Linked DNA regions of Homo sapiens. The protein of the gene in region 1 interacts with the protein of each later gene in a pairwise test. Each region holds a gene or a part of one and is shown in the gene's direction. Other genes may lie near its edges. The genes, in order: DRG1, SKIL, RWDD1 and ZC3H15.

Region 1 (7,029 bases):
CCTCCTGGGCTCAAGCGATCCTCCCACCTCAGCCTCTGAAGTAGCTGAGACCTACAGGCATATGCCACCATGCCTGGCTAATTTTTGTATTTTTTGTAGAGACAGGGTTTTGCCATGTTGCTCAGGCTTGACCTGAATTCTTGGACTCAAGAGATCCTCCTGCCTCAGCCTCTGGAATAGCAGGGACTATAGATGTGTGCCACTGTGCCTGACTTTTTTGAATACAGTTTTTTTATATCAAACACTGCATTGAATTTTGTGAATTGCTGTGCCCTCAAGTTTTGTGTGCTTTAGTTCTCCTTTAAAGGTAAACCATAAAAAGTTTGAGAAATAGTGCCTAGAGGGATAGGCAGTAAAAATGTGAAAGAAGTTATATGAGTCTTAACACTCTGGGGGATAACTCTCCTCTTTTTGGTATTCATTGATGTTTTAGGTTTTGATGTGGCCAAGACAGGTGATGCTCGAATTGGATTTGTTGGTTTTCCATCTGTGGGGAAGTCAACACTGCTTAGTAACCTGGCAGGGGTATATTCTGAGGTGGCAGCCTATGAATTCACTACTCTGACCACTGTGCCTGGTGTCATCAGATACAAAGGTGCCAAGATCCAGGTGAGTCAAGCCTGCAGACTAAGGAAGGAAAGAAATCTATTCTTCATTTAGGAAGAAGTTTATTGGGAGCTCACTGTATGCCAGGCCTGATCTTTGATCTACCAGGCACTTACTACCTGGTAGGGGAAATAGAGCAGTACGATAATAAAATGGGATAGCGCATGTGAAAATGCAGAGAAAGGGCCGGGCGCAGTGGCTCACGCCTGTAATCCCAGCACTTTGGGAAGCCAAGGCGGGCAGATCACCTGAGGTCGGGAGTTCGAGACCAGCCTGGCCAACATGGAGAAACCCCATCTCTACTAAAAATACAAAATTAGCCGGGTGTAGTGGCACATGCCTGTAATCCCAGCAACTCGGGAGGCTGAGGCTGGAGAATCGCTTGAACTACTTTTTCACCTGAGGGTGGGGGCTGGGACTACAGGTGAGCACCACCATGCCGGGCTAATTTTTTGTATTTTTAGTAGAAATGGGGTTTCACCATGCTGGTCAGGCTGGTCTCGAACTCCTGACCTTGTGATCCGCCCGCGTTGGCCTCCCAAAATGCGGGATTACAGGTGTGAGCCACCGCGCCCGGCCCCCTGGTTGTATTTTTAATGACCCTTTTTCCAGCTGGTCAGGTGCCCATGCAGAGACACATGTCCCTTTCTGGGATCCCGTGTCCAAATGTATATAACAAGAATGAAGCAGTGTGGACATATCTGGACCATGGCTTGATTCTAGCTGGTTTCAGAGTCTTGTTGAGAGTCACAGCTTTGGCAGCTCAAGAGAATAACTTTTTTTTTTTTTTTTTTTTTTTGGTAGGATGCTATTGACACCTCTCTCAGGACTTTTGAGTATTTCAAAATAGAGAGTTGCTTAACTCCTCTCCTCTTTCCCAGAAAACCTTCACTCATTTCAGTGTCTTCTGACCTTAGAGACCCCCAACTTTTTTTTTGCATGGTGCTCTCTTTCCTCCCTTTGTCCTCTGCCTCTGTTTTTCATCCTCTTTTGGCTTTCTCCAGAAACTAAGTTATGTAAGCTTACTAGTGGGTATCCTTAATCTTCTTTTTTTTTTTTTTTGAGACAGAGTCTGTCTCCCAGGCTAGAATGCAGTGGTGCAATCTCAGCTCACTGCAATCTCCGCCTCCTGGGATCCAGTGATTCTCCCGCTTCAGCCTCCCGAGTAAGCTGGGACTACAGGCACGCACCCCCATGGCTGGCTAATTTTTGTATTTTTTTGTAGAGACGGGGTTTCACCATGTTGGTCAGGCTGGTCTCGAACTCCTGACCTCATGATCCTCCTGCCTCAGCCTCCCAAAGTGCTGGGATTACAGGCGTGAGCCACCGCGCCTGGTCTCGCCTGCTTTAACTTCTAAAGGCATTGGAGTTTGAAGTAGTTTAACATTTAATTCCTTAAAATTGTGTAATTCCATGTTTTTTTGTTTTGTTTTGTTTTGAGACAGCATCTTGCTCTGTCTCCCAGGCTAGAGTGCAGTGGCATGATCTCGGCTCACTGCAACCTCCGCCTCCAGGGTTCAAGCAATTCTCCTGCCTCAGTCTCCTGAGTAGCTGGGATTTCAGCCACATGCCACCACACCCAGCTAATTTTTTTGTATTTTTAGTAGAGACGGAGTTTCACCATGTTTGCCAGGCTGGTTTTGAACTCCTGACCTCAAGTGATCTGCCCACCTTGGCCTCCCAAGATGTTAGATTACAGGCGTGAGCCACTGCACCAGGCCCCATGATTTAAATAAATATTTTTTTTTTAGGTTTTGGTTGGTTGTAACATGAAATTCGGATATATAAAGCATTGACTTTTTATTGAATGTTACTTATTAGGCATTGACTATTTTATTGAATGTTGTTATTGAATGTTGAATTATTAGTTGCTACATTTAAATTCTTCAGCCTAACTTTTAAAATATTTCCCTCTGAAGAAAAGCTAAATTTAGGTTGCCTTTACTTTTGTAGAGGCCTTAATAAATTTTCTTTTTTTTTTTTTTGAGACAGAGTCTTGCTGTGTCACCCAGGCTGGAGTGCAGTGGCGTGATTCGGCTCACTGCAACCTCTGCCTCCAGGATTTAAGTGATTCTTCTACCGCAGCCTCTCAAGTAGCTGGGACTACATGCGCATGCCACCACACCTGGCTAATTTTTGTATTTTCAGTAGAGACTGGGTTTCACCATATTGGCCAGGCTGGTCTTGAACTCCTGACCTTGTGATCCACATGCCTTGGCCTCTTAAAGTGGTGGGATTATAGGCTTGAGCCACCGTGCCTGGCCGGGCCTTAATAAATTTTCTGCCTGTGTTCAGCTGCCACAGTTAGAAAGCCCTTGCCCTTTTTCCCTCAGTTTATTCATTCTCTCTTTCAGATGATCTTTTTGAAGTTATAGTCATATTCCAGTTTTGAACAGTTTTAGATTATTCATGTAGATTATCCTTTTGAGTTCTTGCTAACATCAGTTAGGCTCATACTGTTGGGCATGTGTGTGTGTGTGGGGGGGTTTATTTATTTTTTTATTTGAGACGGAGTCTTACTCTGTTGCCCAGGCTGGAGTGCAGTGGCGTGATCTTGGCTCACTACAATCTCCGCCTCCCGGGTTCAAGTGATTCTCCTGTCTCAGCCTCCCAAGTAGCTGGGATTACAGGTGCCCACCACTATGCCCAGCTAATTTTGTATTTTTAGTAGAGACGGGGTTTCACCATATTGATCAGGCTAGTCTCGAACTCCTGACTTCAGGTGATCCACCCGCCTCGGCCTCCCAAAGTGCTGGGATTATAGGCGTGAGCCACCATGCCTGGCCGTTTCTTTTTTCTTTTTTCTTTTTTTTTTTTTTTTGAGACGAAGTCTCATTGTGTTGCCCAAGATGGAGTGCAGTGGCACAATCTCGGCTCACTCCAACCTCCTCCCGGCTTCAAGTGATTCTCCTGCCTCAGCCTCCTGAGTAGCTGGGACTATAGGTATGTGCCACCATGCCCGACTAATTTTTGTATTTTTAGTAGAGACGGAGTTTCACTATGTTGGCCAGGCTGGTCTTGAACTCCTGACCTCATGATCTGCCTGCCTCGACCTCCCAAAATGTTGGGATTACAGGTGTGAGCCACTGCGCTTGGCCACTTACCTGCTTTTTGTTACTGTAGATTAGTTTACATGTTAAGAACTTTACATAAACAAAAACCACATATAAATATAAATGCACTTTCTTTTCCATAGGCTTCTTTCATTCTGCATAATTTTGCATTCATGTTGGTGAGCTTTTAATTCTCTCTCGTGGTCTTTTTTTCTCTCATTTTGTATAAACTTTTTGAGCTTGGCCAACATGTTGAAACCCTGTCTCTACTAAAAATAAAAAATTAGCCAGGCATCTTTAATACCAGCTCCTAGGGAGGTTGAGGCAGGAGAATTGCTTGAACCTGGGAGGCAGATGTTGCAGTGAGCCGAGATCGTGTTACTGCACTCCAGCCTGGGCGACAGAATGAGACCCTGTCCCGGAAAAAAAAAAAAAAAGTTGCAAACATAGTACAAAGAGTTCTCGTATCACTTGCCTGCTTCTCCTGTTGTTAACATCTTACATAACCATAGAAAAATTATCAGAGATAGATGAACATTTCTGCAACAGTATTCACTAAACTATAGATCTTATTTTAATTTTTACCTGTTTTTTCCACCAGTGTCCTTTTTCTCTTCTAAAATTTTTATCTAGGATCATCCCATGATGCATTTAGCTATTTCTGTCTATTTGTTTGCCATCTGCAGTAGTCTCTGTCTTATCTTTTGTGACCTTGTCACTCTCAAAGAGTAATGATCAGTTATTTTGTATAATGTTCCTCAATTTGGGTTTGTGTGATGTTTTCTCTTGGTTAGACTTATTAGGTATTTTTGGCAAGAATACCACAGAAATGATACTGTCTTTCTCAGTGCCTCCTACCATGGGATTCATATTGTCAGTATGTCTTATTGGTGATATTGTCCTCCATCAATTGGTTATGGTTGTGTCTGTAGGGTTTCTCTAAAGTTACCTTTTTTTGGACAGTTAATATATATTTTAGGGGAGATACTTCAAGAAGATGCAAATCCTGTTTTTCCTCAAACTTTTGCCTGCTCATTTTCGCATCCATCTGTGGGTCTTGTCTGTAACAGTTATTATTGTACTTTTGCCTCATGGTAATTCTCCCTCGCTCTGTCACCCAGGCTGAATGCAGTGGCACGGGTACGATCATGGCTCACTGCAGCCTCGACCTCCTGGGTTCAAGTGATCCTCCCACCGTAGCCTTCCAAGTAGCTGGGACTATAGGCATGCACTACCATGCCTGACTAATTTTTTATTTTTTTGTAGAGACAGAGTCTCAATATGTTGTCCAGGCTGGTCTTGAACTCCTGCACACAAGCAGTCTACCTGCCTCAGCCTCCTGAGGTGCTGGGGTTATAGGCATGAGCCACTGTCCTGGGCCTGAGTATGTTCTTTTGTTTGTTTTATTTTTATTTTTTATTTTCATTTTTCTTTTTTTTTTTTTTGAGTACGTTCTTGAATGGAGAAGTTGAACTGTCTCGCACCTGCTAAATCAGTTTTCATTGCAGTTTATTTAATGCAAAGTATATTTCTGTAATTTCTTATATTCTTAGAGCAAAGCATATCTGATTTAAATTATGTTTTGGTCAGGCGTGGTGGTTCAAGCCTATAATCCCAGCACTTTGGGAGGCCGAGGTGAGCGGATCACCTGAGGTCAGGAGATCGAGACCAGCTTGGCCAATGTGGTGAAACCCTGTCTCTACTAAAAATACACAAAAAAAATTAGTGGGGCATGGTGGCGGGCACCTGTAATCCCAGCTACTCGGGAGGCTGAGGCAGGAGAATTACTTGAACCTGAGAGGCAGAGGTTGCAGTGAGCCGAGATCACACCACCGCACTCCAGCCTGGGTGATGGAGCGAGACTCCCCTTTTTTTCCTTCTTTTTTTTTTTTTTTTTTTTTTGAGATAGAGTCTTGCTTCATTGCCCAGGCTGGAGTGCAGTGGTGTGATCTCAGCTCACTGCAACCTCTGCCTCCTGGGTTCAAGCAATTCTCCTGCCTCAGCCTCCTGAGGGAGCTGGGATTACAGGTGCCCGCCACTACGCCCCACTAATTTTTTTGTGTATTTTTAGTAGAGACAGGGTTTCACCATGTTGGCCAAGCTGGTCTTGATCTCCTGACCTCAGATGATCCGCTCACCTTGGCCTCCCAAAGTACTGGGATTACAGGCTTGAGCCACCATGCCCAGCTGAGAATCCCTATGAAAAAGCAAGGCCAGACACTGTGTCTCATGCCTATAATCCCAGCACTTTGGGAGACTGACGCGAGCAGATCACTTGAGGTCAGGAGTTCGAGACCAGCCTGGCCAACATGGTGAAAACTTGTCTCTACTAAAAATACATAAAAAAAATTGGTGGGGCATGGTGGCGAGCACCTGTAATCCCAGCTGCTCAGGAGGCTGAGGTGCGAGAATCGCTTGAACCTGGGAGGCGGACATTGCAATGAACCAAGATTGCACCACTGCACTTCAGCCTGGGCGATAGAGCGAGACTCATTCTCAAAAAAAAAAAAAAAAAAAAAAAGATATTTTAAGTGATGTTTTAATAAGCTGCATCTGTTTTCAGTTCATTTATGTGTATAATTCAGTATTTGCCATACAGTAGACCCTTGGTATTTTTAGATTTTATATTTGTTTTAACTGTTTTGACTGATTCTTAAGGGCAGTCAAATTAATAGTTTATAATTTTGCTGAGATGTAAATTTGAATCACATGTGCTGTGGGGTTGGTTTTTCAATCACATCATTAGGTACACTGAGTTCTGTGAAGTTTTACCTTACTGCATTTCCTGGGCAGTTGAGCAGTCATTTTTATCTTTTTAAAATCTTTTAAAATTTATTTATTTATTTTTATTATTTTTTGAGATGGAGTCTTACTCTGTCGCCCAGGCTGGCATAATCTCGGCTCACTGCAACCTTCGACTGTCGGGTTCAAGCCATTCTTGTGCCTCAGCCTCCAGAGTAGCTGGGATTACAGGTGTGTGCCACCATACCCGGCTAATTTTTGTATTTTTTGTACAGACGGGGTTTCACCATGTTGGCTAGGATGGTCTCGAACTCCTGAGCTCAAGCAATCTGCCTGCTTCGGCCTCTGGGAAAGTGCTGTGGAATTATAGGTGTGAGTTACTGGGCCCAGCCTGAGCAGTCATTTTTTACTGGGGACATACATCAGAGTCACTTGTAAAGCCTTTTGAAGTACAGATCCCTATCTGTTGGCCCTTCAAATCAGAATCTGCAGGGATGGGTTTCAGCTCTCTACATTTTAAAAGTTTTTCCAGGTGATTCGGTTGTGCCTGCTTAAGAACGGCTACAAAAATTTTTGTGAGTTGGGGATTTGCAGAAATTGCAATATGTATCATATGTAAATATCAAGA
Region 2 (7,029 bases), on another chromosome or scaffold:
TGTATTTCTGCCTCTTCCATCACCTCAGGTTCTTCCTGGCCCATTGCTCATCCCTTCAGATAGCTCCACAGAACTCACTCAGACTGTGTTGGAAGGGGAATCTATTTCTTGTTTTCAAGTTGGAGGAGAAAAGAGACTCTGTTTGCCCCAAGTCTTAAATTCTGTTCTCCGAGAATTTACACTCCAGCAAATAAATACAGTGTGTGATGAACTGTACATATATTGTTCAAGGTGTACTTCAGACCAGCTTCATATCTTAAAGGTACTGGGCATACTTCCATTCAATGCCCCATCCTGTGGGCTGATTACATTAACTGATGCACAAAGATTATGTAATGCTTTATTGCGGCCACGAACTTTTCCTCAAAATGGTAGCGTACTTCCTGCTAAAAGCTCATTGGCCCAGTTAAAGGAAACTGGCAGTGCCTTTGAAGTGGAGCATGAATGCCTAGGCAAATGTCAGGGTTTATTTGCACCCCAGTTTTATGTTCAGCCTGATGCTCCGTGTATTCAATGTCTGGAGTGTTGTGGAATGTTTGCACCCCAGACGTTTGTGATGCATTCTCACAGATCACCTGACAAAAGAACTTGCCACTGGGGCTTTGAATCAGCTAAATGGCATTGCTATCTTCATGTGAACCAAAAATACTTAGGAACACCTGAAGAAAAGAAACTGAAGATAATTTTAGAAGAAATGAAGGAGAAGTTTAGCATGAGAAGTGGAAAGAGAAATCAATCCAAGGCAAGTTTTTTATATCAATTTTTAATAATGGTAATGGTTTACTTTGAAATGAAAATTCTATGTTTAGTGTGTAACTTAACCTGTATGTTGAACATTGCTCATGCAACAACAACAAAATACCGATTGATATATTTGTATTGCAGTTTTTAGGCCATAAAGTGCTTTGCAGTATGTTTCCTCATTTGACTTTCCAAACATCCTGTGAGAGAAGTAAGACTATTATTCCGTTTTACAGATAAAGTGAATGAAGCTCAGAGAGATAAAATGACTTTCCCAAAATTATGTAGCCAGGGAGTGGAGGAGTTAGGGCTTCTTTTTTTTTTTTTTTTGTGCTTTTAGTAGAGGCCAGGTTTCAGCATGTTGGCCAGGCTGGTCTTGAACTCCTGACCGCGTGATCCGCCCACCTTGGCCTCCCAAAGGGCTGGGATTACATCCTTGAGCCCCTGTGTCCAGCCAGGGCTTCTTTTTCTTATCCTCTTTGGCACACATCTTGCTTCTTGACCACTACATCTGTTGTTTTTCTAGGACTCGATAATTTGCGCTTTGGTGTTATCTCCATTTGCAAATGGTACAATGGCCACAATTCCCGTGGGCTCAAAACAGCATTTTTCAGAGATACACCTATGATTTCTGATGTTTCTATGTTTGGATATTCAGGCTTGCTCAATATTTGAAACAAATGGAAAAGACATGTATCTGAAGAATTTGTGATTTGAAAGGAATAACAAAAAAAATGACAGCTAGAGTAAGGAAAAGTTATTTTAAACTAATAAAATATTAATATAAAAACCTGCCGGGCTCAGTGGCTCACACCTGTAATCCCAACACTTTGGGGGGCTGAAGTAGGTGGATCACCTGAGGTCAGGAGTTTGAGACCAGCCTGGCCAACATGGTGAAATCCCATCTCTACTAAAAATACAAAAATTAGACGGATGTGGTGTCGCACACTTGTAATCCCAGCTACTCAGGAGCTGAGGCAGGAGAATCGCTTGAACCCCGGAGGCGGAGGTTGTAGTGAGCCGAGATTGTGCCATTGCGCTCCAGCGTAGGCGTCGAGGGAAACTCCATCAAAAAACAAAACAAAACAAACAAACAACCTATCAACAGGTGGGAGCAATGAATGGCTCACAATCCCAGCACTTTGGGAGGCCCAGGTGGGCAGATCACTTCAGGTCAGGAGTTTGAGACCAGCCTGGCCAACATGGTAAAACCCCATCTCTACTAAAAATACAAAAATTAGCCAGGCATGGTGGTGTGTGTTTGTAGTCCCAGCTACTTGGGAGGCTGAGCCAGGAGAATCGCTTGAACCTGGGAAGCGGAGGTTGCAGTAAGCCGAGATCACGCCACCACAGTCCATCCTGGGCGTCAGAGTAAGACTCCATTTCAAAAAAAAAAAACACAACCACCTATCAGCCAAGGTATCATAATTTTATTTTTCCTGCTGCATTATCTAGTAGGCTAAACTATTATTTTCATTCCAAGGTTTTGAATGCCGAGGTAATGGACAAGATTGGGATTATTAAATATTTAGTTTCTTGATCGGGTTGTTTTATATTTTTTCCTATTTGACTAAAATTAATGTGTAATAACAGTTCCTAACACTAAGTGTTTAAAATGTGGCAAACATTATTCTTGAGCAGTTTTACATATATAATTTTATTTAATTCTTAACAAGAGGTTGGCTGTGTTTCATTTAGGAACTTTGAATTTTTCCACTATTAGTTTTGATTCCTTGAAATATCCTTGCCCATTTCTATTTTACAGAAGAAATGAATAAAGCATATTAAATGACTGACTGAAGGTTTATTCACAGCAAAGTTAGAGCTTGGACTAGTCCTTAAGACTTGGGATCCTGAGCTTTATTCTGGTGCCTTTAAGGTTTTGAGGGAAATTTAGTTAACAGTGTAGTTTAAGACATTGGTTAAGCCTAATGAAGATAATAATTTTAGACTCATTTATGGTAGTTTGCTGCTTGCTGCTTCCAGAAGACCAGCACTTTGAAATTTCTTGCCAGTGGCTGCTAGATAAGTTTATATTCTTCAGGTGTAGTTATTAACTGATTTTTTTTTTTTTGAGACAGAGTTTCGCTCCTGTTGCCCAGGCTAGAGCTCAGTGGCGCGATCTTGGCAGATTGCAGCCTCCGCCTCCTGGGTTCAAGTGATTCTCCTGCCTCAGCCTCCTGAGTCACTGGGATTACAGGCATCAGCCACCACACCCTTTAATTTTTGTTATTTTTAGCAGAGACTGGTTTCGCCATGTTAGCTAGGCTGGTCTCAAACTCCTGACCTCGGGTGATCCACCCGCCTTGGCTTCTCAAAGTGCTGGGATTACAGGTGTGAGCCACTGCTCTCGGCCTATTAACTAATTTTAAATCAGGATTGACTTCAAGCCAGTGCTCAGTGTAGAACTTGCTTACAGTTGGACTTGTCCCGTGCTGAAGTTTGTGCTCAGAGATTATATTTCAAAATGTGGAATGCCCCTTTTGATATTTGTGATATCTTGCCCCCAAGCTAATTAGGTGCTGTACTTTTTTTTTTGTAGAGACAAGTCTTGCTCTGTCGCCGAGGCTGGAGTGCAGTGGCACGATCTCGGCTCACTGCAACCTCTGCCTCCTGGGTTCAAGCAATTCTCCTGCCTCAGTCTTCCGAGTAGCTGGGACTTCAGGCGCCCACCGCCATGCCCAGCTAATTTCTTTTGTATTTTAGTAGAGAGGGGGTTTCACCATGTTGCCCAGGCTGGCCTCGAACTCCTGAGCTCAGGCAATGCGCCTGTCTCTGCCTCCCAAAATGCTAGGATTACAGGCGTGAGCCACCATGCCCAGTGGTGGTCTACTCTTACATGTCTGTTGGAGGCCACATTTGCCAGATATTGTTGCTCCCGTCTTTTTTTTTTTTTTTTTTTTTTTTTTTTTGAGACAGAGTTTCGCTCTTATTGCCCAGGCTGGAGTACAATGGCGCGATCTCAGTTCACTGCAATCTCCACCTCCCAGATTCAAGTGATTCTCCTGTCTCAGCCTCCCAAGTAGCCGGGGTTACAGGTGCCCACCACCATGCCTAGCTTGTTTTTTGTATTTTTAGTAGAGATGGGATTTTACAGCCTAGCCGGCTGGTCTTAACTCCTGACCTGAGGTGATCCGACCTCCTCGTCCTCTCAATTGCTGGGATTACAGGCATGAGCCATGGCGCCTGGCCCGCCCCAGTCTAATTATTAGTCTGACATAAGTGTATTTTGGATAAACTACTTTTCCTAATATTCTTGCTCTGTGTTTATGTGAAAAACATCTGAGAACCATGATAAAGGTTTAAAAAAAAAAAGATGATGGATTAATTTACTTAACTGAAACAATGTGCTGAGGTTTGGTTAACACTGAAACCATCCTTCGTCTGGGATGTAATCCCTTTTTGTCCCAGAATTCACTGATTTGAATACATTTTCGATTTTAGGAAGGTGTGAGTTTCTTTCTGATCTTTTTGCTGTGTTATATTTTGCAGTATTTGAATTAGTGTTTGTGGTGTATTTTGATATTGCTTGTAATTTTATGTGAATTTGAGAAATTTAAAGGAATTTAAGAAAATTTCAAACACCCATACTTTAAGAAAGATTCTTTTCTTTGGTTCATATTTAATACGTACTTGAGTGGTTGTTTTATTATGCTTACCACTTCACGTTTTAAAAACGTACTCAGAACATTGTGAAGTACACTTATTTTTTAGGGTCTGTGAGGAAGGTGAATGACAATATTTCCACCTCTTAGATGAGTCACATGCTCCTGGTTGTATAACCAGAATCAGGAGTTGAATACAGGGCTTCTAACTCGAAGTTTAGTAATTTTTCACTATTTGCCCCTGAAGCACATGTTAGTAGCAGAAACTGAATTTTGAGAAACATTAACTTTTCTTATCAATTTACCTTAGTACAGGTTGAGCATCCCAAATCCAAAATCTGAAATGCTCTAAAGGCCAAAACTTTTTGAATGCTGACATGGCACTCACAGGAAATGCTCATTGGAGTATTTCAGATTTTGATTTTTGGATTTGGGATGCTCAACTGCCATATCGTGCACATATTCCAGAATCTGAAAAAATCAGAAATTCAAAATACTTTTGGTCCCAAGCATTTCTGATAAGGGATATTCAGCCTCTATGATGGTTCTCAAACTCTGTTTTAACCTGCATATAAATTTAAATACTAAGGTATTTAACTGAGAATGAGATAGTCCTTGACTGAGGAACAGTTTTTATTTTCTTCTGTGAGTCATTGAGTTGGTTGCCAAACAAGCCAAATTGACCCAGAGGGAGCTCATTTTAAAAAGTCAAACTAGGCTTTTTTTTTTTTTTTTTTTTTGAGATGGAGTTTCGCTCTTGCGCCCAGGCTGGAGTGCAATGGCGCGATCTTGGCTCACTGCAACCTCCGCCTCCTGGATTCAAGCGATTCTCCTGCCTCAGCCTCCCAAGTAGCTGCAATTACAGGCGTCTGCCACCATACCCAGCTAATTTTTTTATTTTTAGTCCAGACGGGGTTTCACCATGCTGGCCAGGCTGATCTTGAACTCCTGACCTCAGATGATCCACCTGCCTCGGCCTCCCAAAGTGCTGGGATTACAGGCATGAGCCATTGCGCCTGGCCTTTTTTTTTTTTTTTTTTAAGACTGTACTAAATATATTAACGTGTTATGTAAAGGACCTGATGTTTGGTGTGAATACTGACATGATTTGACATGCGTATATAGTTTATGTAATCAAAGTATTGCTTTTGGATTAAAAAAAGTCCTGAAACTCAGTAAGTTGTTCGAAATGAAACAACTTAATTATTTTACAATTATAAAATATGTAATATATTAATACATTTTAATGTTAATAAGTTGTAGTATCTTGTAAATTATAAATAATTTGAAATGAGACAACTTAATTAAATATAGCTAATAACTCTTTCTTACTCAAGTCGCCATAAGAAATATACTTGATTTTAGGCCAGGCGCGGTGGCTCATGCCTGTAATCCCAGCACTTTGGGAGGCTGAGTTGGGTGGATCACCTGAGGTCAGGGGTTCGGGACCAGCCTGGCCAATATGGTGAAACGCCATCTCTACTGAAAATACAAAAGTTAGCAGGGGATGGTGACACACGCCTGTAATCCCAGCTACTTGGGAGGCTGAGGCAGGCTTGAACCCAGGAGGTGGAGGTTTCAGTGAGCCGAGTTCACACTGCCCTTCATCCTGGGTGACAGAGTGAAACTCTGTCTCAAAACACACACACACACACACACACAGACACACACACACACACACATACTTGATTTTAGATCTGCCTATGTTGTTCTACAGAATGTTGTCAAGTTACTTACCTGATACGAGCTTTTTGTGTTTTTTATTGGAATAATCATTATTTTACTTTAAACTGTATAAATACATGCAAACATCACATTCCTGATTCTTTTTCACATCTTCAGTGGATATTCAGCAAAATCAGAAGTAGATCAAATATATGTAAACAAAAATAGAAAATTAAAATAAATTTGATCTAATTCTAATTTTGTTGAATATTACGTTTGTATGAAAAAAAGATCAACAGGCAAATTAATCATTTGTAAATAAAATTTGAAGAGTAATGTTTACTTAAGATTATTTTCAAACATATTGGAAGTGGTCATTTGTTGTAGGTGATTCTTCACTTTTTTTGTTTGTTTGTTTGTTTTTTTTGAGACGAGAGTCTCGCTCTGTTGACCAGGCTGGAGTGCAGTGGCGCGATGTCAGCTCACTGCAAACTCCACCTCCCAGGTTCACGCCATTCTCCTGCCTCAGCCCCCTGAGTAGCTGGGACTACAGGTACCCATCACCACGCCTGGCTAATTTTTTCTATTTTTTTAGTAGAGACGGGGTTTCACCGTGTTAGCCAGGATGGTCTCGATCTCCTGACGTCGTCATCCTCCCAAAGTGCTAGGATTACAGGCGTGAGCCACTGCGCCTGGCCGATTCTTCCCTATTGTAGCATGTGGCTGACAGTCTCCACTTTACTAAGTTAAGAACTATATATACCCTTTTTTTTTTTTTTTAAATTGAGATGGAGTTTCGCCCTTGTTGCCCAGGCTGGAGTGCAATGGCGCAATCTTGGCTCACTGCAACTTCCGCCTCCCAGGTTCAAGCAATTCTCCTGCCTCAGTGTCCCTAGTAGCTGGGATTACAGGTGCCTGCCACCACACCCAGCTAATTTTTTGTATTTTTAGTAGAGATGGGGGTTTCACTATGTTGGCCAGGCTGGTCTCGAACTCCTGATCTCAGGCAATCCACCAG
Region 3 (6,885 bases), on another chromosome or scaffold:
CCTCATGGAACTTACATTCTACTACAGGGAGAAAGAGTATAAACATAATAAATAAATAGTGTAATTTTAAAGAAGCATGGGAAAAATGAGTTAAAGGGGATAGGTAGTGCTAGGAGTGGTTGTAATTTTAAGTAGGGTGGTCGAGTTGGGGTAACCCCATTTAGAAAGTGACCTTTGAGGAAAGACTTGAAGGAAGGGAGGAGGTGACACATATGGGTATGGGAGGAACGGCATTCCAGAGGGAACAGCAAGTGCAAAGACCTTACGAGGAAATCCTGCCTTGCATGCTTGAGGAACAGCAAAGAGGCTAGTATGGCTGGAGTAGTGGAGTAGAATAAGAAGAGAGACCTGAGTGAGCACACTCAGCCCCCTCGCCATGTGATGGCCTGTGCTACCTCAGTACTCTGCAGAGTCCCCACATGCAAGAAGGTCTCACCAAATGTCCCCCATGACCTTGGAATTCCAATACTCCAGAACTGTAGGAAATAAAATTACCCAGTTTCAGGTATTCTGTTATAAGCTTAGTCCAGAAAACAGACTAAGGCAGAGAAAGAAGAGCTGTGAGGGTGAGGATCAAGAAGCCAGATTCTCTAGGACCTATACTATAAACACATGGTTTTAATCTGAGATGAGGATGGGGCAGTTATGAGCAAAGGAGTGATATGGACTGGTTTACATTGTAACAGAACCACTCTGGCTTCTGTGTTGACTCACAGTAGACTGCAGGCCAGGGAAGTGAGTTAGGCTGGAAAGTATTACTGAGATTCACTACCCTTGAAGATATTTCTGTTCAGAGTACACAAAATTAAAATTTTATATGGCTCTTTGTGCTTGTGACTGGTAAAGTCTTTGAGATACCTGAGTAAATGAAACATTAGCCACATGAACTGTTCGATAATTAAAATTAAGCATGAAATAGGGAATTCTCAACACTGAGCTTCTGAGAGTAGTGTGATTGCCTAGAAAACTCACAGGCACAGAAAAGTAAAAATAAACATCAAAATAATTTTTAAAGGCTGATAGCATTAGTAAACAGCAACTGCTAATATGCACTACCTGCAGAAGAAACTAAGAAGAATACAAATAAGATGAATCTCTTAGGGACAATTTCATTAGCAATAAAGATGAACAGAGAATAGCAATGCTTTACAAGATGGTATATGAATTTAATTACCAGTAAATAATATTTATATGGAGTTTACACAACATGCTTACACATTATTTCATGTCATCTGAATTATAAGCTTATGTATCTTGCAAATGACTAAGCCTGGGCTTCTCACTTCTGGTTCCAGATCCTATGATGGCTGTAATAGTCAGTTCTCACCCTGCTATGAAGGAATAACTGAGACTGGATAATTTATAAAGGAAAGAGTTTTAATTGACTCATAGTTCTGCATGAATGAGAAGGCCTCAGGAAACGTACAATCATGGCAGAAGAGGAAGCAAACACATCCTTTTTTTCACATGGCTGCAGGAAGAAGAATGAGTGCCCAGCGAAGAAGGAAGACCCTTATAAAACCATCAGATCTCATAAGAACTAACTATCACAAGGACAGGATGGGAAAAATCGGCCCTGTGATTCAATTATCTCCACCTGGTCCCTCCCAGGACACGTGGGGATTATGGGAACTACAATTCAAGATGACATTTGGGTGGGGACACAGCCAAACCATATCAGTGACTCACACCATTTGCCTACCTGCAGAGCTTAAAACACTTGGTCTGTAACATCTCTACCTACCGATTAAAAATGAAACACTAAAAGAAAGTCAATTTGCCTCATGAGAATTTTCCACAATTTCAGTTAAGGGACTTGCTGTGCTGTGTTAAGCATGTGTTATGGTCAAAATGAAATTAGAGATCCACTAAAAAATGCTTAATAATGCTTATGTAGGTGTGACAAAGATTTGCGGAAGTGTTTTCTTGATTACAAGAGCCATCTCCAGTATCAAAGTAACACTCTTGAGCATTCTGAAGCATGTAGGGTTTATTTACAGTGATACATAAGGTTTGAAAAGGATGCTTTACCAAAAATTTTGTTAATGAAATAGGAATGAAAATAAAGAGGTACATTTACTGGATTGCAACTGGCAACCAAAAGTAACCTTTTTCTAACGTAAACCTTGTATGTTTGTTGCTTTGCTGCATCTCATTTCTTTTGGTAGGTTGTTTTTATTATTCTGTTAGGAGAAAAAAACTTAATTTTGCTTGATTTTCTTTCATCTAGGAGTCATTTAAAGATGTAATGCCACCTTCCTTGCCAAATTTGATTCTGTCTTCCTCACTTATTTTGGTCAACAGAACTTCGTCTTTCCAGTTCTTCCAGCCAAAAATCATCCTTGACTCCCCACTTAGGACTTAATGCACTAGCTGTTTCCTCTGGCAGCTCTTTCCTCATAATAAATCAGTATAATTCCTCTGAACTGAGGCGATCCAAAAAAAATGAGCAACTTATACTTGCAAAGTTACTTTATGTATTTTATTTGATTGTCATCATAGTTAGGAGACTCCACTTTTTCATTAAAGTTTAAAAGAACGCCTGAAATCAACCCTTAATACCGTAAACACGGAATCAGTATCAAAGTGTTCCTCTGCTATAGGTAAGCAGCACTCCTCAATAAAAGATCAAGGTGCCTTCTGGTGCTTCAGGGGCTTCATCATTAGGAATCTTTCATTTAAAAAGTGTTCCTCCCACTATACCAGTGAAACCAGCTTTAATACAGAGAAATCAAAACAAAGAAAAATACAGAAAAGTGGGCAACAGCTTTTGAGTATTTTCTTAAAATTTTCCATTTTTCGACTTAGCGCAATAATATAATAAAGGAACATGGGATCCTTTATTATTGTTACCATAGTTTTTAATATCATTTTCATAAAGCTAACCATGTTTATTTAGCCATTTTCTTAGCTTTTGCCATCATGGTTCTTTGAAAATTTTCTTTGTAATTGCTGCAATGATTTTGGAGATCACAGATGCATGCTACTTGCTCAAGTTTATTCTTGGAAGTCGTATTACCAAATTAAAGGTTCTCAACATTTCTCGGGGTACTGCAATTTTTACATTGCATATGATAATTGTTATTACTGAGATCTACATTCCTTTCATCAATTCACAAATACACAATCACAGACATCTTGAGATCTATCATACGTCCAGCTGCGTTCATTTCACAAAATCAGAAGTTAAGCCTAAAGATCTGAACCGAGAAGCCGGACCTCCGGTCTATTTCTCCCTCCTGGATCCACCCCGACTTATTAAGCAGTTAGACCGACCCTTCCATACTCATTCAAGGCAGTGCAGAGCTTTTGCTCCCCTGCCCAGTGGAATCTACACTGGTCCCAGCCTCTCGTCCAACTCCCGTAGGACGCCAAGCAATACGGAGTTCGAGAAGCTCAGAAATCTCCTGAGCCCCACCAGTCCACACTAGGTTGCAAGCCCGCAGCACCTACGCCACGGCGTCAAACCGGAAACCAGAAAAGGTGAAGGCATCGGACGCCCCTCGCCCCAGCCCGGCCACCAGCGACACTATCCTTCACTGACGCGCGATGCCGGCCTTTCAGCCCAGACTCATCGAGCGAGGATGCAGCGCTGAGAGGCTTCTAAGGCTCAGGCCCTGCAAAGCCCAGGAGCCGGCTGTAGGTGTCCTTGGCGAATGCCAGACCGCGCGCACCGTCCCAGCAAGTCCCGAGCGAGTGTGGGACAGGCAGCAAATCAGTGCCCCCTGGCCAGGCAGAACGAGTCGAACGTGGAAGTAGGGAGCAGGCGGAGGCCGGCGCGGAGCTGCAGTTAAGCAAGCCGGGTCTGGCTTTGGGCCCTGGGCCTTCCAGCCGGGGACTCTGCGCCTGCGCCCGCCTGGCCGCCGCCCGCTCTCCCGGCGCGGCAGCTGTCTGGGCTGCTGCGCGCCGCCTAGGTGTCTGGGCGATCTATGGGCAAGAGCAAGGGCCACGATGACAGATTACGGCGAGGAGCAGCGCAACGAGCTGGAGGCCCTGGAGTCCATCTACCCTGACTCCTTCACAGGTGACTCCCGCGGCCGCAAGCCTGTAGCCGCCCCGAGGTGGAGTAGGACGGGCAGGAGCTGCCGCAGCTCTGGGCCTCATAGGTTGGGGTGGAGAAGGGGACCTTGAGGCCGCGCGGCCACCTTGCCCTCCACTCCTCAAGTTCTTCAGTCACTTACCAGCAACCCAGTGACTTTTTCTCCTTCTCTGCTTGTTCCCGGAAATCTAAAAGTCCGGGTGATGTTGGAGGGTGTCAGGCCTGAAAATTGAGTCGGGATTACTTTGGTTTCTGTGTAACCTACAGCAACCTGAGATTTATAATACATTAAGAGAAAAAATACTCCAAGTGCGATTCGTTTTTCCACAGCCGCAAGAATGTTAGTTTTCACATTTTTAGCTTTATTAAGGTAGAAACTGTTTTTCATACGATGCTGTTTTAGTTTATAGGATTCAGAGTGCTGTTTTCAGTTACTCAAATCGGTTTTGAGAGTAGCATAGTCCCTGAAGTCTGTCGGGTTTCTTTTCTTATGAAAAAAAAAAAAATCTGGCATTCAGCAGAATGCCTAATGGATAATGTGGCCCAAATTTCCGTTCTGCTATAAATTCATAGGTTGTTAGATTGGAAGGGAGATTAAACATCATCTATCCTGGGGCTCCTGCTCCAAGCCAAGGTCATGGGGGTTCAGGAAAGCTAAGTGGCTTGCTCTGTACTGTCCGCCAGCGAGTTAGCGGCAGGGCTGGTACTGAGTTATACGTCCAGAACGCTTGCCTGTTCTTTCACTTTCCAGACATATGGGACTTGGGATTCAGCTCCAGCTGAGATTGAGAGAGCAGAAGATTACTTGGTAGGTTGGGCTAATGTAAAATATTATAATGAGAAGTTCATTAGGTATAATTTAGAGGACGAGATTTCTCTATTAAGCCATGCTTCGGATGATTATAAAAATGCTACATAACTATATCAATATGGCTCCTCTGAGATTTGAGAAGCGGTCAAATAAAGCCAATATGAGTGAGTAGAACCTAGGTGTGTGCATTTACATTCCCCATCCTTTCCTTTGAGTGTTGCCTATCGTTGATAGTCAGAATTTATAGTGTAAGGTATATTACTTTAACTTATAAATTCCAACCCCTCTCCCTTTCATTGTTTAGCTTAGTTTTCTTGGCTTCACCTTTTGACCACTGCTTGCAATGGTAGCAAATTTTGTTCTGCTTTGCCAACAGGCAGATGTCTCTCAGCTATCCCTGTATAGCTCCAGTCCTGTTCATGTTCTCTCTCACCAGCAGTACATCTGTGCTGTGAGGATGTTAAGGGGATGAGTGAAGAGGGGTTTGAGAGTGTCATTAACTGGGTGAGTGTGTATGGAGTCTGGCTCCCTTCTCTATCCTTGCTTATATGTGTATGTCTAAAATAGAATATAGGGTCAGTTGTTGGATATATTCTTAATCATGTTTGGTCATTTCCAGTACTTTGGAAACATACTAGGTATGAACACTGTAGGCAGAGTCAAGACAGCAGGATGTGCTATTCTTTTCATTTCTTTGGACATAAGCTATCCCTCGCTAAATCCTATGCATATAAGCATTTATAAAACTGATATCTTTTTTTGTTTTTAACCCTGAAATAATCTTGTGGGTATTTCAAATTGTACTAGGCCCTGACAGCTCTGGTATAGTTCGCTATGTGAAATTCTTATCAGATGCCCAAGTGCTTGAGGATTCTGAGCCAGGGTAATAAAAGACAATTTATGAATCTTTTGATGCATTCAGGTATTCTGCATTATCAGATGAGCCATCTGTCTCTAACTCCTGTCAACATTTCTACAAGCTTTGCAATAAATAAATTAAAATGAGGTGTCTTTATTTATAGTTCTTAGGGAACTTTGCCTTCCTAGTGATCATGTTCTTTATGAAAACTCTTGGGGAAAAGGCAGAGGACTTTGAAATAAAATGTTTCCATGTTTGATCTTTTAAAATCTTGGAGATTTGCAAGATTTTCTGTTTTATAGCCTTCTTTTGTATTTATGATTCCATACTTTTGTATTCTCATGCCAGGTTTAAGAAAGAGATCTTGCTTGTGTCGGTTGGCCAAGGAACACTAAATGGGAGTTTTGTAACTTCATTTTGAATCACATTTAATTATTGAATTTGGTTAATGCTCAATACTATTAATGAAGGAAATAGATATACTTTTTTTTTTTAATGGATGACTGAGTGCTTGACAAAGAAGCATTTGTTAAGTACACGTGACCCCATGTGGATGCTGAAGAGACACAGTCCAGCCTATAGACCTAGGCACATAGATTTAGCCTAACCTCAGAATTAATTGCTTTGACTATTTGCAAAGAAGTTTTGGTCCAGTGTTGCATTTGTTGTGATTATAACAAATCATAATACAATTTCTTCTTTTTGCCTATTCTGTAGCTTGATTGCACATTGATCCAACCCTCCTAACAACTAGTCTTCCAAAATATAAATGGACTCTCCTGATACCACATTCTCCTTCAGTAGTGCTTCACTTGACAAGGTCCTGCTAAGGTAGTAGAATTTGGTTATTTCAATTTATGTATTGAAATCTCTGGCTGTGGGGAGTTTTATTGAAACGCATTTGTTGGCATCAGGTTAACCAAAAGCCAAGTTTCCTTAATTCTGTTTGCCTTACAAAGAGGAGTACATAATCCTGTATTTCTTTGTCAGTACCTCTAAGCAGCAGCCATTCACATTTGACAGTTATAATTGTATCTTGAGATAGGTAAGAAGTCGTCCTGTAAAAGCAGTTTGTTCTAAGTCATACTTTTTGAAAGGTCAGACACTCCCTAACAACCAGAGGTACTTATTTTAATATGGGCTCTCTCGTATTTTGTGGAAACTAAAGGTAATTTG
Region 4 (6,631 bases), on another chromosome or scaffold:
TGAGGCTTAAATACAATTGTATCTTCTATCCATGTTGTGAAGGGTCACTCTCTTTGTGTTCCTTTTGTACCTTGCTCCTGTATACTGCTTGTGATTCATTTTTATTTAGGAAAGATCAAACCAAAGAAAATCATTTATTCTATTTATTTTATTTTTGAGGCGGAGTTTTGCTCTTGTTGCCCAAGCTGGAGTGCAGTGGCGCAATCTTAGCTCACTGCAACCTCTGCTTTCCGGGTTCAAGAGATTCTCCTGCGTCAGCCTCCCAAGTAGCTGGGGTTACAGGCATGTGCCACCACGGCCAGCTAATTTTTTGTATTTTTAGTAGAAGTGGAGGTTCACCATGTTAGCCAGGCTGGTCTTGAACTCCTGACCTCAGCAGGTGATCCGCCCGCCTCGGCCTCCCAAAGTGCTGGGATTATAGGTGTAAGCCACAACGCCTGGCCTGATTTTATTTTTTATAGCTAATTGTATATTCTGATTCGGGGGCGTACATTTACAAAGGGTAACTGAAACAAGTAAGTCATTTTCGTATGATTTAGAATTTAGAACAAATGAAAACTGTATAGATTCCCCTTTAAGGGAATTTGCCATTGTTCTACATATTTTAAGATAAACTTCTGTTGCATTTCTGCACAGAATAGAGGCTAGACAGAGCACCCTTATGTGCAGAAATGAATAGAATGTACTTGTGTAATATAACGTACTTGTGTGTATACTTGTTCCATATACTCAGGCATTTACCTTGGAAATGGCCTACACTGAGCCACCGCTTGTGAATAATATTGTCTCTATAGGTGTGCAAGCATTTCCTGGAAGCTATTGAAAACAACAAGTATGGCTGGTTTTGGGTATGCCCTGGAGGGGGTGATATTTGCATGTATCGTCATGCACTTCCTCCTGGATTTGTGTTGAAAAAAGATAAAAAGAAAGAAGAGAAAGAAGATGAAATTTCATTAGAAGATCTAATTGAGAGAGAGGTAACTGGTATCCTTTTCCTACCATAAAAACTGAAAGCAGTATTTATTGTGAAATTCTAATACTTACCACTTGGGGCAATAGCCTTTTATGAAAGGAAAAAAAAAATATTGTGATCTATTCCCAAAGTTGCCCTACTTTAATTATTCTTGTATGTGTAAAATGTTAACCTAGCCATAAACATTAGCCAATCATGACATTAATTTTAGGATTGTGAAACAGTCTTTTAAGTACTAGCTAATGGCTTATCAAATTATTTCTGTAAGATTGAGTTACTAAAAATGCTTAGTTCTCAGATTGGTTGAATTTTTATAGTTTTAGATTTTTCGCCCTGATATCTTTTTTCACTAGTATATTAGTTATTAGCATATGTACGGAAGAAGACAACACTCTAGTTTTTAAATTATATGTTTTATCAGCTCTGGACTCAAAACACTCACTCTGCTTATAGAAGGGAATGAGTCTGAAGAGGATATTCAGCTACTTGTCTTTGGCTCCGTACAAAACACAGTTTTATTCTATGAAAATTTTGAGATTATTAGAAACATTAGATTTAGGGTTGCATATTAAAAACTATATCCATTTTGCCTTATTATTTAGTGTCTCACTCAGGATATAACACACTATAATAGAAAATGTAGACTTCAGAATCAGGTATATTTGAGATGGTTTGTATACTGGTTCTGACACTTGTTAGCTATTCATCTTTGGTAAATTCCCCATTACCCTTTGTTCACCTATTTGTGGGGATCAGTGCATAGTGTGTGTAAAGCATTTAATACCTGGCAAGTGTTCAGCAAATTTTTTGTTCTATATATTTATTATTTGATTATTGGCCCTGAGGAGTAGGTGTTTGTTTGTTTGTTTGTTTGTTTAGTTTTATTTCTCATCTTCTCAGGAACACAAATGAAACTTGGATATTGTTATGGTGCTTTTTATAATATATTTATTATTTTCAGCAATTGATTCATGTTAAAACAATTTCTTATGACAAGTTACTCATCTTCAATGGTGAGAAGAAATCTAGCTCAGAATAATATATTTTTAGTGTTTGTATCTCTGGATACTCATTTTGCTCATTGCCACGTAAAGTAAAAAAATACATAAATTAGCTTATTCCAATGTAATATCTTCAGGATAGTCATGGGCAAGGAATTAATCACATTAAGAGATAACTGCAACTAAGCACTATTTGAGGTGACTTCTGTGGAAAAAAAATTAATTCTTTACCATTGCAGCGTTCTGCCCTAGGTCCAAATGTTACCAAAATCACTCTAGAATCTTTTCTTGCCTGGAAGAAAAGGAAAAGACAAGAAAAGATTGATAAACTTGAACAAGATATGGAAAGAAGGAAAGCTGACTTCAAAGCAGGGAAAGCACTAGTGGTATGTCTCAGGCTCACCCAAACTGATTCTTTATTCTTCCATTTTCAATTTCTGTGTCATGCAAGATTTTGTTTCTATTTCATCAGTGACAAGGAATGTTTAGATTTTTGTCCTGAGTTGATATATTTGTGTGTCTCAATAGATCAGTGGTCGTGAAGTGTTTGAATTTCGTCCTGAACTGGTCAATGATGATGATGAGGAAGCAGATGATACCCGCTACACCCAGGGAACAGGTGGTGATGAGGTAAGAGGAAGCTTTGTGCCTCATCTCCTTATGTTAATTGAAAGAAACAATAGAAAATACCACAACATGGTTAAGAGCCACCAACATCAGAGCCACAGTGCCTGGGTTCAAATCCTTACTCCAACCATGGGAAATTAATCTAGGCCTCCACCCTCATCTAATATGGACATAATGATTATCTCTACATCATAGTTTGTGAGAATTAATCGAGTTCATGAATTAGTAGTTCTTTATACAGCTTAGGACAGTGCCTAGTATGTGGTTGAGTGCTATATGTATTACCTGTAAAAAGTATGTTTTGTCCTCCCTCTAAAAGAGAGAGTTATTTTTTGGTTAATATTTTATGCTTAAAAGTTATGGGACAAGTGCACTAATTTAAAACTGCAGTGTAGGGAGCATGAGACAATAGCACAGTCATTTGGTTGTTGACAGATTTAGTAATAACAGATAACTTACTGTTGATTTTTTGTGTACTTACAAAATTCTGGCCTCTGGGTTGAAAGAAAAAAATTGTACTCTATATATAAAAATGTGATGGCAGAGGAAGAAGTTTCATATACCACCTTGCTATTCTTTTTAAACGAAGTTTAGAAAAAATAATTTTGAAAATAGATCTTTTGTTTTTGTTTTTTATAGAGACAAGGTCTGGCTTTGTTGCTCAGGCTGGTCTCAAACTCCTAAGCCCAGGTGATCCTCCACCTCGACCTCCCAAAGTGTTGGGATTACAGGTGTGAGCCTCCACACCTGGCCAGTAATTGGTCTTTTGTTTTCACTTGGATCAGTGATAATTTTGGCTCATTAAGATAAATGTCAGGAGTAAAAGAAAACTGTTCTTATTTGTAACAACTTTCTTTTCTATATGTTGTTAAAGGTTGATGATTCAGTGAGTGTAAATGACATAGATTTAAGCCTGTACATCCCAAGAGATGTAGATGAAACAGGTATTACTGTAGCCAGTCTTGAAAGATTCAGCACATATACTTCAGATAAAGATGGTAAGTATGCTAACTTTTGCCTAATTTTAAGAACTAGGAAGTTATCTAAAGGGGGTTATACCAGGCTTGGCAAACTTAGATGTGTGCAGGTACCAGATTGGTAACATAAATGTGTGGTTTGACCATAAATAAAAGCAGTAATAAATAGTGAAAGGCTGTAGACATGAGCAGCTGGGTGTATATTAAAATCATTAATGGAAACTAGAAGGAGACAAAAATGAGCTTGGAGTTAAAGTCAATGAGTTCACTTCGGGACCTCATGAGTTTGAGATTTTTTGATTATCAAAAGTGCACTGTCTAGGATATTGTGTAGACATGAACACCCTACAGAACATCAGTGTTATGGGGTAAGTAAAAGAAGAAATGCTTAGGAAAGACATTGAGAAGGTCAGAGAAAAATCAAGAAACAAGTTTCCAAAGAAGCAAGTAGGATGAAAAAGAATATAAATAAGTTACTGGTTGTAATTGGTTATAGGAATAGGGTGCCAGTTTCATTGAGACTGCAATGATAACGGTGAGAAGAAAAATGAATACAGTCCTCTCTCTCTTAATGTTTAGAGGGAAGACATGGTCATGGGAAGGGCTTTTTAGGATATGGAAAACCTAAATGTATCTGTAGCTCAGAGGAAGAGGATCTGGTAAGGAGGAGAAGTTGATGATAAAAGATTAGTTATAGAAGCAATACATGAAAGTATAAATAATGAGTTAGGTATGAGAATGGAGGGAAGGCTGTCTAGGATTGTTGGTATAATTTATGTCTAATTGTGCCTTGAGTTAGGTACTTGAAGAAAGGGGTAAAAGTTTGGCATGCTTGCTCTGGGAGAAAACAGCAGAAGAAATGCCCATTAAGGCAAAAGCTGAGACAGAAAAGGCTGAACATTATTTTTACAATAAAAGCACACAAGCTGTAACTTGAAAAACCAGCTTGCCCTCCCAAGATCTGAGAGTGTTAGCAAACCACTATCTTGCCAGTATTCAGATTGACTTGCTCTTTGTAGAAGTAGGGGCTTTGGTGACAATAGGCACAACTGCAAATAATTCAGAGATTATAAAATTCCCAAGACTTTGTCATCAGAGATGTTTGAAATAACTAAAATCTAAATTAGGCTGTTAAAAAATGTCTGTGTAATTGTCAATGGCATTGAACAAGAAAAGGCAGCATTTTTTTTCTCTCAGTTATTTATAACCTATAAGAAAAAGTAGCTGTATAGCACTATGTTTTTTTTTAACAATTTGATTACATGATGAAGATTTTCTGCTGTCACAATCACAGCATTACAACAGCATGATTTAAATACTATTTGCAAAACCAAAAGCCAAGTAGCTGCTTATATTACAAACATTTTTTTGGTTTCCATAACCATTTAGTCAAATAAAATATTATATGGAAATTGACTATTTAAAATCTAATTGCTAGGTCATGTAGGGAACACAGAGGTGTAGAAGATTGATCCTGCCCTCAAATGTATAAACCATTAAGTAGTCAAATGGCTACAGTGAAAAACAGTATTTTATAGTAGGTATAGATAATTGGCACAGATAAGCTCAGAAAAGAATGATCAGTTCTTGCTGGAGTAATTCTGGGGAAATGGCTTTCATGGAGAAAAGGAAAAGAGGAAGTGTAGTATCAGTCTATGTTGTCTATTGCTAATGTGGAATGGTGTTTTCTGCTTCTACGCCTTACTGATTCCAGTTTTTATATTTAGAAAACAAATTAAGTGAAGCTTCTGGAGGTAGGGCTGAAAATGGTGAAAGAAGTGACTTGGAAGAGGACAACGAGAGGGAGGGAACGGAAAATGGAGCCATTGATGCTGTTCCTGTTGATGAAAATCTTTTCACTGGAGAGGATTTGGATGAACTAGAAGAAGAATTAAATACACTTGATTTAGAAGAATGACACCAAACACATCGCTGAAAAAATTAAGTCAGCTCAGCACGAGTTGAAATTGACTACATTAATTTCTTTCCACCTAGAATCAACAGGATGTTTATTTCCTATGCTGATTCTGGAGGAGTTAACCTCCTGCAAAAAAGGCATCTTGTCCCTACATCTTCTCTTCTGACTTTGGCTACATCTCATAGTAAGTTCAGAGTAGTTCATGATAAATTGAAAATATAATGGTCATTGCAGAAAATGATTGATGTTGTAACTGTCCACCCAAGTAAGAAGTGTATCTGCCTTTCCATCTTTTGGTTTTCATTTGGGCATGTGCTATTACCAGAAACAACAAACTTATATTTAAAATACCCTTCATTTGACACAGTTTTTAATGAGTGATTTAATTTCCTCTGTATTTGTATGTTTAGAAGACTGCCTAAAACATGAGCACTGTACTTCATAAAGGAAACTGCGTATGCAGATTCAGTATTGTGTATCTTTGGACAATTAGATGGACATTTAAAATGGAACTTCTTTTATCTGACAGGATCAGCTACAATGCCCTGTGTTAAATTGTTTAAAAGTTTCCCTTTTCTTTTTTGCCAATAAAGTTGTAAATAAAGACCATCATACATTAAAATCCAAATATGGGCCTTTTTTTAAGTTTTTCTATGAAAAATTTAACATTTCTAGCTTGAGAATTTTAAATACCTGTTATAATATCACATAGGCATGTTTTCTTAATATTTACTACAGAAGCATCTAGAGTACTTGACAGTACTACAATGAGTTTAATAACACAAATACTAAGCTTCCAAAAAGAGACTTTAGGAGATGTTATATAAAAGAGTAACTTCTGAATTGATACAACATCAACCAAATTAAATATCACCTGCAGTTGAATCAAGTAATGCTTAAGAATTGTTTGTTGAGATTCATGGTGTTAAAATAGTACATACTACTGTAAGTATAAACAAATTCACCAGAAAACTTTGGGCTGAGGGTCTTTGGCACTAAGAGCCCCTGAAAAATTAGGGTGATAATACATTTAAAATGGACACAATTTGCTAATGACATATTTAGTACTAGCTACACCTTTTTTATTGTTATGTTTTGTATTTTCAAATAATATGTTGCTTTTGTTATTTGCGAA

Evidence for each region.
Region 2: the proteins of DRG1 (region 1) and SKIL interact in binary tests that used the Homo sapiens proteins (3 or more experiments, as listed by UniProt).
Region 3: the proteins of DRG1 (region 1) and RWDD1 interact in binary tests that used the Homo sapiens proteins (3 or more experiments, as listed by UniProt).
Region 4: the proteins of DRG1 (region 1) and ZC3H15 interact in binary tests that used the Homo sapiens proteins (3 or more experiments, as listed by UniProt).

Annotation. Positions count from the first base shown.
Region 1 is NC_000022.11:31,402,596-31,409,624, forward strand, and holds part of DRG1 (developmentally-regulated GTP-binding protein 1), read left to right. Parts: intron 1-433; coding exon 434-609; intron 610-7,029. UniProt on the Homo sapiens protein: Catalyzes the conversion of GTP to GDP through hydrolysis of the gamma-phosphate bond in GTP. Appears to have an intrinsic GTPase activity that is stimulated by ZC3H15/DFRP1 binding likely by increasing the affinity for the potassium ions.
Region 2 is NC_000003.12:170,360,688-170,367,716, forward strand, and holds part of SKIL (ski-like protein), read left to right. Parts: coding exon 1-742; intron 743-7,029. UniProt on the Homo sapiens protein: May have regulatory role in cell division or differentiation in response to extracellular signals.
Region 3 is NC_000006.12:116,567,632-116,574,516, forward strand, and holds the start of RWDD1 (RWD domain-containing protein 1), read left to right. Parts: upstream 1-3,872; 5' UTR 3,873-3,951; coding exon 3,952-4,024; intron 4,025-4,790; exon of another isoform or gene 4,791-4,847; intron 4,848-5,226; exon of another isoform or gene 5,227-5,354; intron 5,355-6,426; exon of another isoform or gene 6,427-6,540; intron 6,541-6,885. UniProt on the Homo sapiens protein: Protects DRG2 from proteolytic degradation.
Region 4 is NC_000002.12:186,503,238-186,509,868, forward strand, and holds the end of ZC3H15 (zinc finger CCCH domain-containing protein 15), read left to right. Parts: intron 1-794; coding exon 795-977; intron 978-2,213; coding exon 2,214-2,360; intron 2,361-2,502; coding exon 2,503-2,604; intron 2,605-3,475; coding exon 3,476-3,599; intron 3,600-5,305; coding exon 5,306-5,496; 3' UTR 5,497-6,124; downstream 6,125-6,631. UniProt on the Homo sapiens protein: Protects DRG1 from proteolytic degradation. Stimulates DRG1 GTPase activity likely by increasing the affinity for the potassium ions.